Homo sapiens: one gene and its partners. The protein of the gene in region 3 interacts with the protein of the main gene of each other region in a biochemical or structural test. Each region holds a gene or a part of one and is shown on either strand. Other genes may lie near its edges. The genes, in order: SH3RF1, MAPK8IP3 and MAP3K11.

The links.
Region 1: the proteins of MAP3K11 (region 3) and SH3RF1 form a complex in vitro, tested with the Homo sapiens proteins (one study listed by BioGRID).
Region 2: the proteins of MAP3K11 (region 3) and MAPK8IP3 form a complex in vitro, tested with the Homo sapiens proteins (one study listed by BioGRID).

What each region holds. Positions count from the first base shown.
Region 1 is NC_000004.12:169,113,854-169,117,500, forward strand, and holds part of SH3RF1 (E3 ubiquitin-protein ligase SH3RF1), read right to left. Parts: intron 2,778-3,647; coding exon 2,416-2,777; intron 1-2,415. UniProt on the Homo sapiens protein: Has E3 ubiquitin-protein ligase activity. In the absence of an external substrate, it can catalyze self-ubiquitination. Stimulates ubiquitination of potassium channel KCNJ1, enhancing it's dynamin-dependent and clathrin-independent endocytosis.
Region 2 is NC_000016.10:1,761,608-1,765,254, reverse strand, and holds part of MAPK8IP3 (C-Jun-amino-terminal kinase-interacting protein 3), read right to left. Parts: intron 2,905-3,647; coding exon 2,774-2,904; intron 2,581-2,773; coding exon 2,524-2,580; intron 2,420-2,523; coding exon 2,249-2,419; intron 1,599-2,248; coding exon 1,472-1,598; intron 1,141-1,471; coding exon 1,045-1,140; intron 955-1,044; coding exon 796-954; intron 243-795; coding exon 77-242; intron 1-76.
Region 3 is NC_000011.10:65,597,249-65,600,878, forward strand, and holds the end of MAP3K11 (mitogen-activated protein kinase kinase kinase 11), read right to left. Parts: intron 2,521-3,630; coding exon 2,146-2,520; intron 1,381-2,145; coding exon 1,043-1,380; 3' UTR 509-1,042; downstream 1-508. UniProt on the Homo sapiens protein: Activates the JUN N-terminal pathway. Required for serum-stimulated cell proliferation and for mitogen and cytokine activation of MAPK14 (p38), MAPK3 (ERK) and MAPK8 (JNK1) through phosphorylation and activation of MAP2K4/MKK4 and MAP2K7/MKK7.

The DNA of each region.
Region 1 (3,647 bases), on a different chromosome or scaffold from region 3:
TATAGCATTAGAGAAAAGACACAAGGGGACACACCTGCAAATACCTCAGGGCACCATGTAGAAAGGAGATCTGCATTTTCTATGTGGGCCCTCAAAATAAAGAACAACGGTTGGAAGGTTGAGTTGAGTTACAGCTGTCTGAAGATGGCACAGGGCAGTCTTGGGCTAGGGCACTGCTTGGTCAATGGGGCACGCACCTAGGCAGAAGCCATGGTCATTTGTCAGGGATGGGTGCTCCACAGGATGACCAGTAAGGACCTGTACTAGATGGTGCCGTAACAGGTTAACTCAAACTTTGTGGTAAAAATCGGGTCCTAAAATCAAGGTGTGGCAGGGCTGGTTCCTTCTGGAGGCCACTGGGGAAGAATCTGTTCCCTTGTCTTTTCCAGATTCTAGAGGCTTCCTGTATTCCTTGACCTGTGGTCTCATTTCCCTATCATTCCTACCTCTGCTTCACCATCACGTCTCCTTCTCTGGCCCTAAGCTTCCTGCCTCCCTTTTAAGAACATCCTTGAGTTTACACTGGGCCCACCTGGATAATTCAGGCTAACCACCTTGTCAAAAGGCTATTAATTTAATAAAACCTGCAAGGTCCTTTTGGCCATGTAATGAAACATCTTTAAAAGTTCCAGGGATCAGGAGGTGGACATCCTTGGGGAGTCACTATTCTGTCTATCACAAGTACCTTTCAAGCCTTAGAGATTTAGTGAATTCTACATTGGAAGGGCCCAGCTGAAGAGTCCCTGTTCTTATCAGTGGCAAGGGCTCTGAGACACATTGTCATCAAGCCTTAAAATCTAAACCATAAAAATAATTATTTATAAATATATTAACAAAGTTGAACATGTTGGCTTGAGTGCAAGTTTAATGTAGTTAATTATAAACACTGAACAAATATCAATCTTTTTCAAAAACTCTCATGTTAACCGAACAATTAAATATTAACTTTTTAGTAGGCCATAAAGTTTATTTCCTTATAAACTGCTGTTTACAGGCTCCCTTAACCATTTAAATAGAACGACATACATTACCACTTAACCAGGTGGCTAAAAGTCTATGATCGCCCTCAAACTTCCCAGAACTGGTATAGAACTTCAGGGGAAATGTGTAAAATATTGAGGAAAAAGTAATAATGACAATAAAATTATCCAGATCCGTTACCATCTCTTCTTTTTCTTTTTACATTTAACAACTCTCAATTTCTCTTGCCTCCAATCACCTGTCTCTAAACCCAACCATCGGTTATTCTTTCCAATATAACTTTCCATTTATATTTTCTTTAAAATTCAGCCCCAAATGAGACATTAAAAAAAACCCCAAAAACTATGGATTTAGAAAATAATGTTTCCTTATATTTCAAGTCTTACCTCTCAAGGAACCATGCTGCTTAAGGTCAGATGTACTGGGCCATGGACCAGTACTAGCCTGTGGCCTGTGAGGAACCAGGCCGCACAGCAGGAGGTGAGCTGCAGGTGAGTGAGTGAGGCTTCATCTGTATTTACAGCCGCTCCCCATCACTTGCATTACTGCCTGAGCTCCGCCTCCTGTCAGATCAGCAGGGGCATTAGATTCTCATAGGAGCATGAACCCTATTGTGAACTGCACATGCGAGGGATGTAGGTTGCACACTCCTTATGAGAATCTAATGCCTGAGGATCTGTCACTGTCTGCCATCATGCCCAGGTGGGACCATCTAGTTGCAAGAAAACAAACTCAGGGCTCCCACTAATTCTACATTATGGTGAGTTCTATAATGATTTCATTATATAGTACACTGTAATAATAATAGAAATAAAGTGCACAGTTAATGTAATGAGCTTGAATCATTCTGAAACCATTTCCCCGCCACCACCCCTGGGTCCATGGAAAATCTGTCTTCAACGAAACTGGTCCATGGTGCCCAGGTGCCCAGAAGGTTGGGGACCACTGTTGTAGATAAAATAAATCCATAAGTAACACTTTTGATCAACAGTTTCATCCCCCTCACACATATATATTTTTAACAGAACTCTTATCAAGCAAGACTCACTGAGCAGGAAGACTTGAGGACAGCAAAATGATGAAAGAATGAGTAACTAAAGGGAAAAGGAAATTCCTCCACGAGACTGTAAGCTGCACAAGGAGGAGTGACTAAGTCTCATTCACTGTGGTCCCTCTAACATGCAGCACTGAGTCTGGCAAGTAGTGGGCGTTTAAACACAGAGAAACATGAGCTCTAGATAAGAGGATGGGGTGGTGCCTGCGTTTCTTCCCCACTCTACTCCTAGCACCTGGCATAGTGACTCACACGTAGGGAGCACCTGAGGGTTTGTTGAACAGTGAGTCCTCTCATTAGCTAAAAATGACAGACACAACATAAGAAGAAAAACAGGGAAGTAAGTAAAGCAGAGAAACAGTAAGTAAGTATGGTCTTACTTTGCTATCCTTGTCTGGTTTGGTTGCTGAACTGTTCCCACAAGCTGATGAAGCACTGTCAGGAGATGTGGGGAGTCCAGGGAGAACGGTCACTATCCGGCCACTGGGCTCAGCCTCCAGAGAAGCACTGGTGATGCTTGGGGAAGTCAGTGGAGCAGCTGCTGCACAGGCCAGAGGGGCACTGGCTCGACTGATACTGATGGCAGCAGTGTGCGTGGCTGAGCCTGGCATCAGAGGCGCAGGTTGTGGGGAGGCCAGCGAGTGATGGGACAGGCCCACAGATGCAGGGCTGAGGCCGGCGGCATTCTGTACCTGGATGGGTGTCACTGCTGCCGTGGGGCGTTCCTGGTTGTGCGCTGCAACTAGTAGATGGGAAGAGGGAACACAGCAAAATTCAACTATCTAATAGATGCTGCTCACCAAAACATGAGTCATTTCACTGCATCAGACCATGATGAAAGGCTGCTATTGTATTTATTACAATAAAGATGGGATGGACGGTGGCCTAAAAGCACTTAATCTTAGCTGGATCCCCAGACACTATCTATTGTCCTTCCAGGTCAGCCCTTGAGTCTACTGAGTGCCTGGAAGCTCAGTTTTGACCCAAGTCCCTTTACTTAGGAGACAGCCTCTCCACAGTGTTAGAGACACTGAGCCAGTTCTTGATGGTATTCTACAGTGTCAAGCGATGTCTCCCTCTAGTCCTTTTCCTATTATTCATTCCCTTTTCTTATGAATCATTTTCCTTTTTTCTGTTTTTCTGATAGAGTTCACAAGCCTTTAGTTTACCCCTCATCCCATTAGTTACCCAAGACTCTTGGGAAGGTTTTCAGTGCTACAGAACTAAGAAAGCTGTTTAAGATCCCATAGGGTCCAAGGTAGACTTGTGCTTAAGTTAATCAGAAATGATCAGCACACCCGTTAGTAGAGTATCACGCAATGTCACATGGATGGTAGTAGTGAGATTTGAGATCATATGATCTCAACTATAGAAGTCAAAATTTCAAGTACTATTGACATTCTTAGGATCAGCCTAATTTCTTTCAGACTTTAGATCTATCCATCAGGCTTGAAGTAATACGCAGGGCACGCTTAGCCCAAATAAGCAGATACAAGGTGCCACTGAGTAGACTTTGCCTAATGTTGTTCATTATTAAAATTACATCTACATTTCTCAACATCTGTCATAAAAGATCTACTATTAGGCAGGTAAGCCCTTTATCCTGATATGT
Region 2 (3,647 bases), on a different chromosome or scaffold from region 3:
TGTGGCAGGGCTTTTACTTAGCTTGCTAGTAAAAGGGAGTGGCGCCCGAGTGGAAACGCCCACTCCAGCTGCTCACCGGGGATGCTGGAGATGCACAGCACGTGCGCGTTGCAGACGGTGAACTGGTCCACCACCGTGCCCGGCTGGTTGGCGTCGATGATCACCACCTTGCTGGTGGTCAGGGTGCTGGTCAGGATCCACACCCGGCTGGAGGTGGCGTCCATTTCAGGGAGCTCCTTGGCCTGTTTCAGGGCACGGGATCAAGGTCAGAGCCCGAGCTTGAGGCTACCCGGTGGCAGCACAGGGCCATGGGGCTCCCAGAATCTGTCAGGATCCAGCCTTGACTACAGCTTGAGGGGACATGGCTGTCCTCCCCCAGGACCAGAACAATGCGGACTCAGGACTGCACTCTAAAGCACTCACAGACACGGTTTCGCCTCCACAGAAGAGGCCCCTGAGCTCCAAGAGGCCCAAGCTGGGCATAAAACTAAGCCTCCCACCACTGGGAGGCAAGCTCTGCCGCTCCTGGGCTCCTCTGTGCCTGCTGCCTGCCTGACCCCTGCAGCCCAGTGCAGGCCCACTCCAGGCCACCTGGGGGGTGAAAACTGAAAACCCAGAAGGCGGCTCAGTCCTGGTGAGGGAAGACACTGCTTCCCGCAGTCTAGGAGCCCCTGCGCTGCCCTGCTTCCGGGTGCTGTCCCCAGCTGTCCTGTGTCTCACTCCCAGCATGCTCTGCAGCTGAGCTGTCCTGAGACTAAGCCAGGGAGGGTGCCCGGTGGCCTCGGCCATGCTCACCTTCTTCTTCTCGGGAGACGTGTGGGCGCTCTTGGGCTCGCCGTCTCCTTCGCGGTCGCAGGTCAGGGGATCGCGGCCTGGCGCTGGCTTGACTCCATTCCCAGCGTCGTCCTCATTGGGCCTCCACCCGCTCAGGTTGACGCCCGCGGCACACCACAGCTGCAAGGGCAGGGCCGAGGTCGGGTGTCACCGGCACTCCCCAGCCTCCCGCTCGCCCAGCCAGCCTGAGCGGGGTCCTCGCGGGCTCACCTTCATGGTGGGGTCCTTCTCCACCAGAGGGCGGCAGTACACCGGCACCGGCACGTTCTTCATCCGCGTGTCCTCCTGGCCCCCGTTGGGACTCAGCTGCAGGGAGCAGGGAGGCGCCGTGGGCACGAACCCTGGCTCCTACCCATCCCTCCAGAAATCTGAGACAGGTAGGGCTGCCAGCTTCTGGCGGCACAGCCACTTCAAGACTGGAGGCAGGTGGGGGCGTGGGAGCCGCGGGGCTCCTTCTCCGACCCTCCAGACCCCTGCCCAGGAGGCTCACTAGGAACCTGCCAGGCCCCGCCCCACCCGCCGTCCTCTCCCACCCCCTAGCACTGCCCCGCCCTCTCCCCGCCCCACAGCGCCCCGCCCCTTACCCCCGCCCCGCCTCTGCGGGGCCCCGCCCGGTCCCCGCAGCGCCCGCCCGCACCTGCTTGTACTTGGCGGGCAGGCTCCAGCCGCAGGCCTGCAGACGGCCGTCGTCGTTACGCACGTGCTCACGCACCTGGCGGTACTGCTCGCGCTTCTGCTCTCGACGGGCGGAGGACGTGCAGTCGCTGAGTGGAAGAATGATGGGTGATGTCTCTGTCCAGGGTGAGCGGCCCCCACAGTGCCCCAGGCTTGTCCTGGGGGAGGTCACGGCAGGGAGGCCCGCCTGGGCCCATCCTCGCCTTTTCCCGGCCACCGGGTGCCCAGCTGGGAAGGGTGGCTTTCCCGGCACTGGGTGCCCAGCTGGGAAGGGTGGCTTTCCTGGCACCGGCTATGCCCCTGGGCTTGGAGGCCACAGCTGGCCCCTGCTCGACCCAGAGGCTGCTCTGCTGCCACAGTCACTGAGGGTTCCACAGACCGGGACCTGGAGTGCCGCCGGGGCACAGGCATGACCAGCGACTCCCTGCTGGACAGACGCCTGAAACGGCTCCTTGCTGCAGAGGCCACCGTGGAGCCCAGCACAGCCCCCTGACTGTTGGTGGGCACAGCCTCTGCCAAGGGACATCCTGAACCAAATACCGTGGAGCCAAAGCAGCCCAGCTCCCCGCTGCAGGGAGGGGCAGGCAGTGTGCAGGGAGAGGTCACGGCCCCTGGCATGTGGCCAGCAAGGTGGAGGCTGCCCTCAAAGTCCCGCTTCAGGGCCTGGAGGGGAGGAGCCTCAGGACAGGGCCTCCCCAACCCCATTGCAGGCCACAAGTGGGGGCTGCGGGACACTCACTCGTCAGGGAAGAATTCCAGGGGCCGGCTGCCTGCCGAGATCGGGCACATGGCATGGTTGCGGCGCTGGCTGAAGCCGGCAGTGGTGGGTGACTTGTAGTGGATGTTCACCGAGGGATAGGGGCGCTTGGCCGGAGGGGGGCTGGAGGAAGAGCTGAAGAGGCGGCTGAAGCTGCCAGAGGCACAGGGAGGTGAGGGGTGGGCAGAGGACCAGGGAACCTCCCTGCCCCTTCCCCTGCAGCTGCTGCCCACATCCCCCAGGGGCCCCCAGCTTACAACTGCCAGATGGTCGACTTCTTCTTCTCCTGGACGGATGGGTGCTCTCGGGACGCTCTGCAGGGGAGGGCACAGGGAGCAACCTGCTAGTGCCCTCACGCCTCCCTTACCTGCGACTCTCTGGCTCCCGCCAGGAAGCACCCAGCGCACTTCAGTCCCCCCAGAAGACAGGGAGGTGCAGAGGAGGGAGCCGCAGTCCTGCCGTCAGGGATGATCCCGCAGCCCCTCCTGGGGTGGCCGCAACTCCCACCTGATCATCTCAGTCCACCGCACAGCCTCCTGCAGCTCCATCAGCCGCTCCTTGTACTGGTTCCGCTCCATGAGCACACGGGCCATCTCCACCCGCGTGAAGCGGCGGCGCTGGGCCATGGGGATTTTGTCCTGCGGAGGGAGGGGCACAGAGGCTCAGCCAGCCCTCGGAGGCCGGGTGACACCTGCTTCCTCCTGGGGTGCCTACACGTATAGGTGGATCTCAGTGCCAATTTCCTTCAGATCCTCAGGCAAGAAGCGGTGTGGAGGGGTGTCGGCAAGCGGGGAGGGGAACCATACAAAAGGCATGCACCAGGACTTGGGTGCTGACAGGGGACCCGGCATCCTGCCAGGGCTGTGGTCCTGCCCAAGGGCCTGATTCTGACTCCATGTGGTCTCAGGAGTGGGGTGGCAGATGATGCCGCTGGGGTCAGGTGTCACCCAGGAGGGGTGGGAGAGCTGTCAGCCCAGAACAGCCGGCGAGTCCCCAGGAGCCCGCCTGGGCCCCCTGCCCGTGCCCACCCCAGCCCTGCATGTGAATTGTGGGATATACTGATTCTGTACAGAGACAGAAGCGCCGGTGAGTCCCCGGGAGGCACCCCGCATCCCCATGCCCCGAGTGTGAATAGTAGGATATACTGTGTGTGAATGGTGAATGGTGAATGGTGGCCGCCCAGCGTGTGAATGTGTGGGAATGATGGCTGCCCCACGTGTGAATGCGTATGAACAGTGGTCACCCGGCGTGTGAATGTGTGGGAACAGTGGCCGCCCCGCCTGGGAATGGTGAATGGTGGCCGCCCCGCCTGTGAATGGTGAATGGTGGCCGCCCCGCCTGTGAATGGTGAATGGTGGCCGCCCCGCCTGTGAATGGTGAA
Region 3 (3,630 bases):
CCTCCCAAAGTGCTGGGATTACAGGCGTGAGCCACCATGCCCGGCCTATGGTTTTTTGTTTTTTTTTTTTTTGAGACGGAGTCTTGCTCTGTTGCCCAGGCTGGAGTGCAGTGGCGTGATTTTGGCTCACTGCAACCTCCACCTTCCAGGTTCAAGCAATTCTCCTGCCTCAGCCTCCAGAGTAGCTGGGACTACAGGCATGCACCACCACACCTGGCTAATTTTTGTATTTTTAGTAGAGATGGGGTTTCACCATGTGGCCAGGTTGAACTCCTGACCTCATGTGATCCGCCGGCCTCGGCCTCCCAAACTGCTGTGATGACAGGAGTGAGCCACTGCACCTGGCCGAGAAGAGCCTTGAATGACTGACCAAGGCTGGTGGATTTGGTCCCAGGAGAGGCATGCAGTACAAGGCATCCAACTGCCTATTGTTGGGGCATCAGGACACCAGGGTTGTATGATAGGTTGGGTCACCTGGTTACCTCCAAGAAAGGTGACAGGCTACATGTGGGGAGACAGCTTTTGAGTTTATTTGGCTTCTGGCTTCACTGGATCCCGAGGCTAAGACTCCAACCCTGGCTGGGGCAGCAGGAAGGCATCCAGAGAGCCCTGGCCCCAGATGACCCCCAGGGCAGGAGGTCCATGCTCTAAGCCCTAGGGCAGGGGCCGCAGTAGCAGGACTTGGTCAAAAGTGCTGGTGACAGCTGAGGCCGGCCCCTCTTCCCTGCACCTCCCCTCCTCCCTGCATCACCCCAGCAGGCAATTCCCTGAGACAGGCTCTGGTCCTCCCAACCAGCTGGGTACAGTGTTGGGCCCCAGTAGGGCAGGTGAGCTGGGGGGACCTACAGGTTTCAGATGTGGGGGCGCAGGTCCCCCTTCCAGTGTGAAGGCTTCCTGTGCAGTGTAGTGTTCCTGACCCCCAAAGGGGGGTGGGGTCCCTGGGGAAACTGAGGCAGCTGCAGAGGCTGACCCAGCTCCTGTTCCAGTGTATGCTGTGACTCCTCCTAAGGCAGCTGGAGCTCGGGGGAGTGGCCTGGCCCACTCAAGGCCCCGCTTCCGGCACCCACGGGGCCTGGGCACCCATGTCTTTGGTCTGTGCCCTGCAGTCCTGGGGGCCCCCCTGGAAGGGGTTGGCAGGTGGGGAGTCCCAGAAGGGGTCTGAGTCCGGGAACAAGGTCCAGGGTGCTCGGCGGGGTGCAGGCTGTGGTGATGGCAGGGGAGAAGGCCGTGGCCCAGCTGACACAAAGCTCCAGGGATCAATGCGGCTGCGAAGGGGCGAGGGCCGAGGTCGGCTGATGAGGCCCAGGGGTGGTGAACGTGGGGTGCCTGGGGTGCCAGGAGCAGAGCGTGATGTCCCCGGTGGGGGTGAGACAGTGCCTCCTGTGAGGATATAGGAGGGGCACAGGGTCAAGCAACCCCCAACTGCTGAGGTCCCCAAGACACTGTCCTGCTCTGGGCCTCAGTTTCCCCATGTGCACAGTGACCTACTTGACTCAACTTCCACCGCCCTTCCTGCTCCGTGGTGCCTCTGTTTTTTGTAATAGTTAGGAGTGAGGCCTCTGCAGCAGGCTGGCCTGGATGTGGATCCCGGCCCTGCCACTTACTAGCTGTGGGAGCTGTGGGTCCCTTAATCTCTGTGCCTTAAATTTCCTCATCTAAAAATGGGCATCCAGGAGCGCTTAGTTCTCTGGTTGTTATGACTAAATGAGACCATCTCGGGAAAGCCTTGCAAACAGTACTTGGCACAAGTAAGGAGCCAGGAGTTTGCTACGATTATGATTACATGTATGCTGTGTCGCCCAGGCTGGAGTCCAGTGTCATGATCACCGCTCACTGCAGCCTCAACCTTTCAAGGCTCACGTGATCCTCCCAGAGTGCTGGGATCACAGGCGTGCACCACTGCCTGGCCCGATTACTTCTTTTATTTCACAGCAGGCATCGCCCCCACCTGCCTGGACCACCTGATAGCTGAACTTAGAACTCTGCTCCCTACATGCGTCTTCAGTACCCCGAATGCCTGGTTCAGGGTCCAGCTGATGACTGTGGTCTCGGCCTTGCCTCCTTGCATGTCCCCACCAGCCACTCCTCCCTCCCTGGGAACCCCCGTCTCCCATATGTGAAGCAGGCCGGCTTCAGGCCACTCACCGCGGGGCTCCTCCTCACGTCGGGGGCTCTTGGCTGACCGCTGGCCCACAGGGATACCCAGGTCCAGCAACAGGGGTGCAGGAGTGGGCGGGGAGTCGGGCGTCTTGAGCGAGAAGCAGATGAGCGGGGAAGGGGGCGGCTCGGTCGGGCAGGGCGCGGGCGTTGGCGTGGGGGGTGTTGTCGGGGACTCCCCGCGCTCGCGTCCTGGGCCTCCCGGCGGCTGCAGGTCGCGGCCAAGGCCCAGCGAGGCGAGCAGGGCGGTGCCGCGCAGCAGCGCCCGCTGGATCAGCTTGGGCGTCCCAGAGCTGCTACCGCGCTCTGCGGGGACAGGCCTCTTGGGCTCCTCGGGCTCCAGGCTAGGCCGCGGGGGGTTACCTGCGGGCAGAGGCGGCACAGGTGAGGGTGTGGCTGGTGCATATTCCGGGTGAGGGCCCAAGACCTCTCCGTGGTCTTGGAACAAGGACTGAGTTCTGCCCTCTACTAGCATCTTCCCTGGTCCCACAGGTCCCATGGCCTCCCCATCACATACCCACATTCTGGCCTTTCACAAGATGGGCACTGGGAGGGGAGGGCAGTGCAGGTGGAGGAAGCGGCAGCAAAGCCCAATGGCAGCCAGCGACCCCAGACCCGAAAGATGGATGGGCAGTCCCAGTGGAGGCAGGCTGGGGCCAGGTCACAGTGGGCCTCTGTGGCCTGCCAGGGGCAACCTCCAGGCCCAGGGGCATGGCAGGTCCCACTGACTGGGACCGGCGCCCTGTGCTCTGTGCCCACCAGCTTCCTGGCTTGGCAGCCCTGCCCCTTCTGCCCACCCACCCCCGCTCCAGCTGTAGCTTATAAGATGCACACAGTCAACTCTAAGGTACATGGCAGCCCTGAGGGCATAAATCCCTGTCTCTATTCTAGAAAGGAGGAAAATGAGGTTCAGAGGGGTCAGTACCTTGCCCAAGGTCACAGCTAATTTACAGAGTATGTATTTGTGCCAGGCCTGAGCTGAATGGCATAGGGGCATTATGTTGTCTGATTCTCATGCCCCAGGGGTTCCAGGCTCAGAGAGGTTGAGGGCTTGTGCGGAGCTGTACAGCCAGTGAAAGGTGGAGCCGGCCTCACCCCAGGCAAGGGCAGTAGAACCTTTGCTCTCCACCATTTCCCAGCCAGACTCTGCCCTAGATTTCAAGACACTAGTGTCCTACCTTCCAGTCTAGGGTTGGCCTGACTCCATTCTAGACCACTTGGGCAGGGATGGGGAACCCCTCATTAAGGACAAGGGACTCTAGGATGGGCTCTCACAAGCCCTGATTTTGTCAGATCCCTCCTTGGCTCTAGAAACTGCTGTGGCTCTCCACTGTCACTAGGAGAAAGTCTGGCCTCCTTGGCTGGTCCTCTGAAGCCCTCCCTGGCCTTGTCCCTCTGCCTTTCCCCTCCTGCCTGGAGTGCAGCAGCAGGTTGGATGTCGGGAGGGAGAAATACAAGGCTGGGAAAAATGAG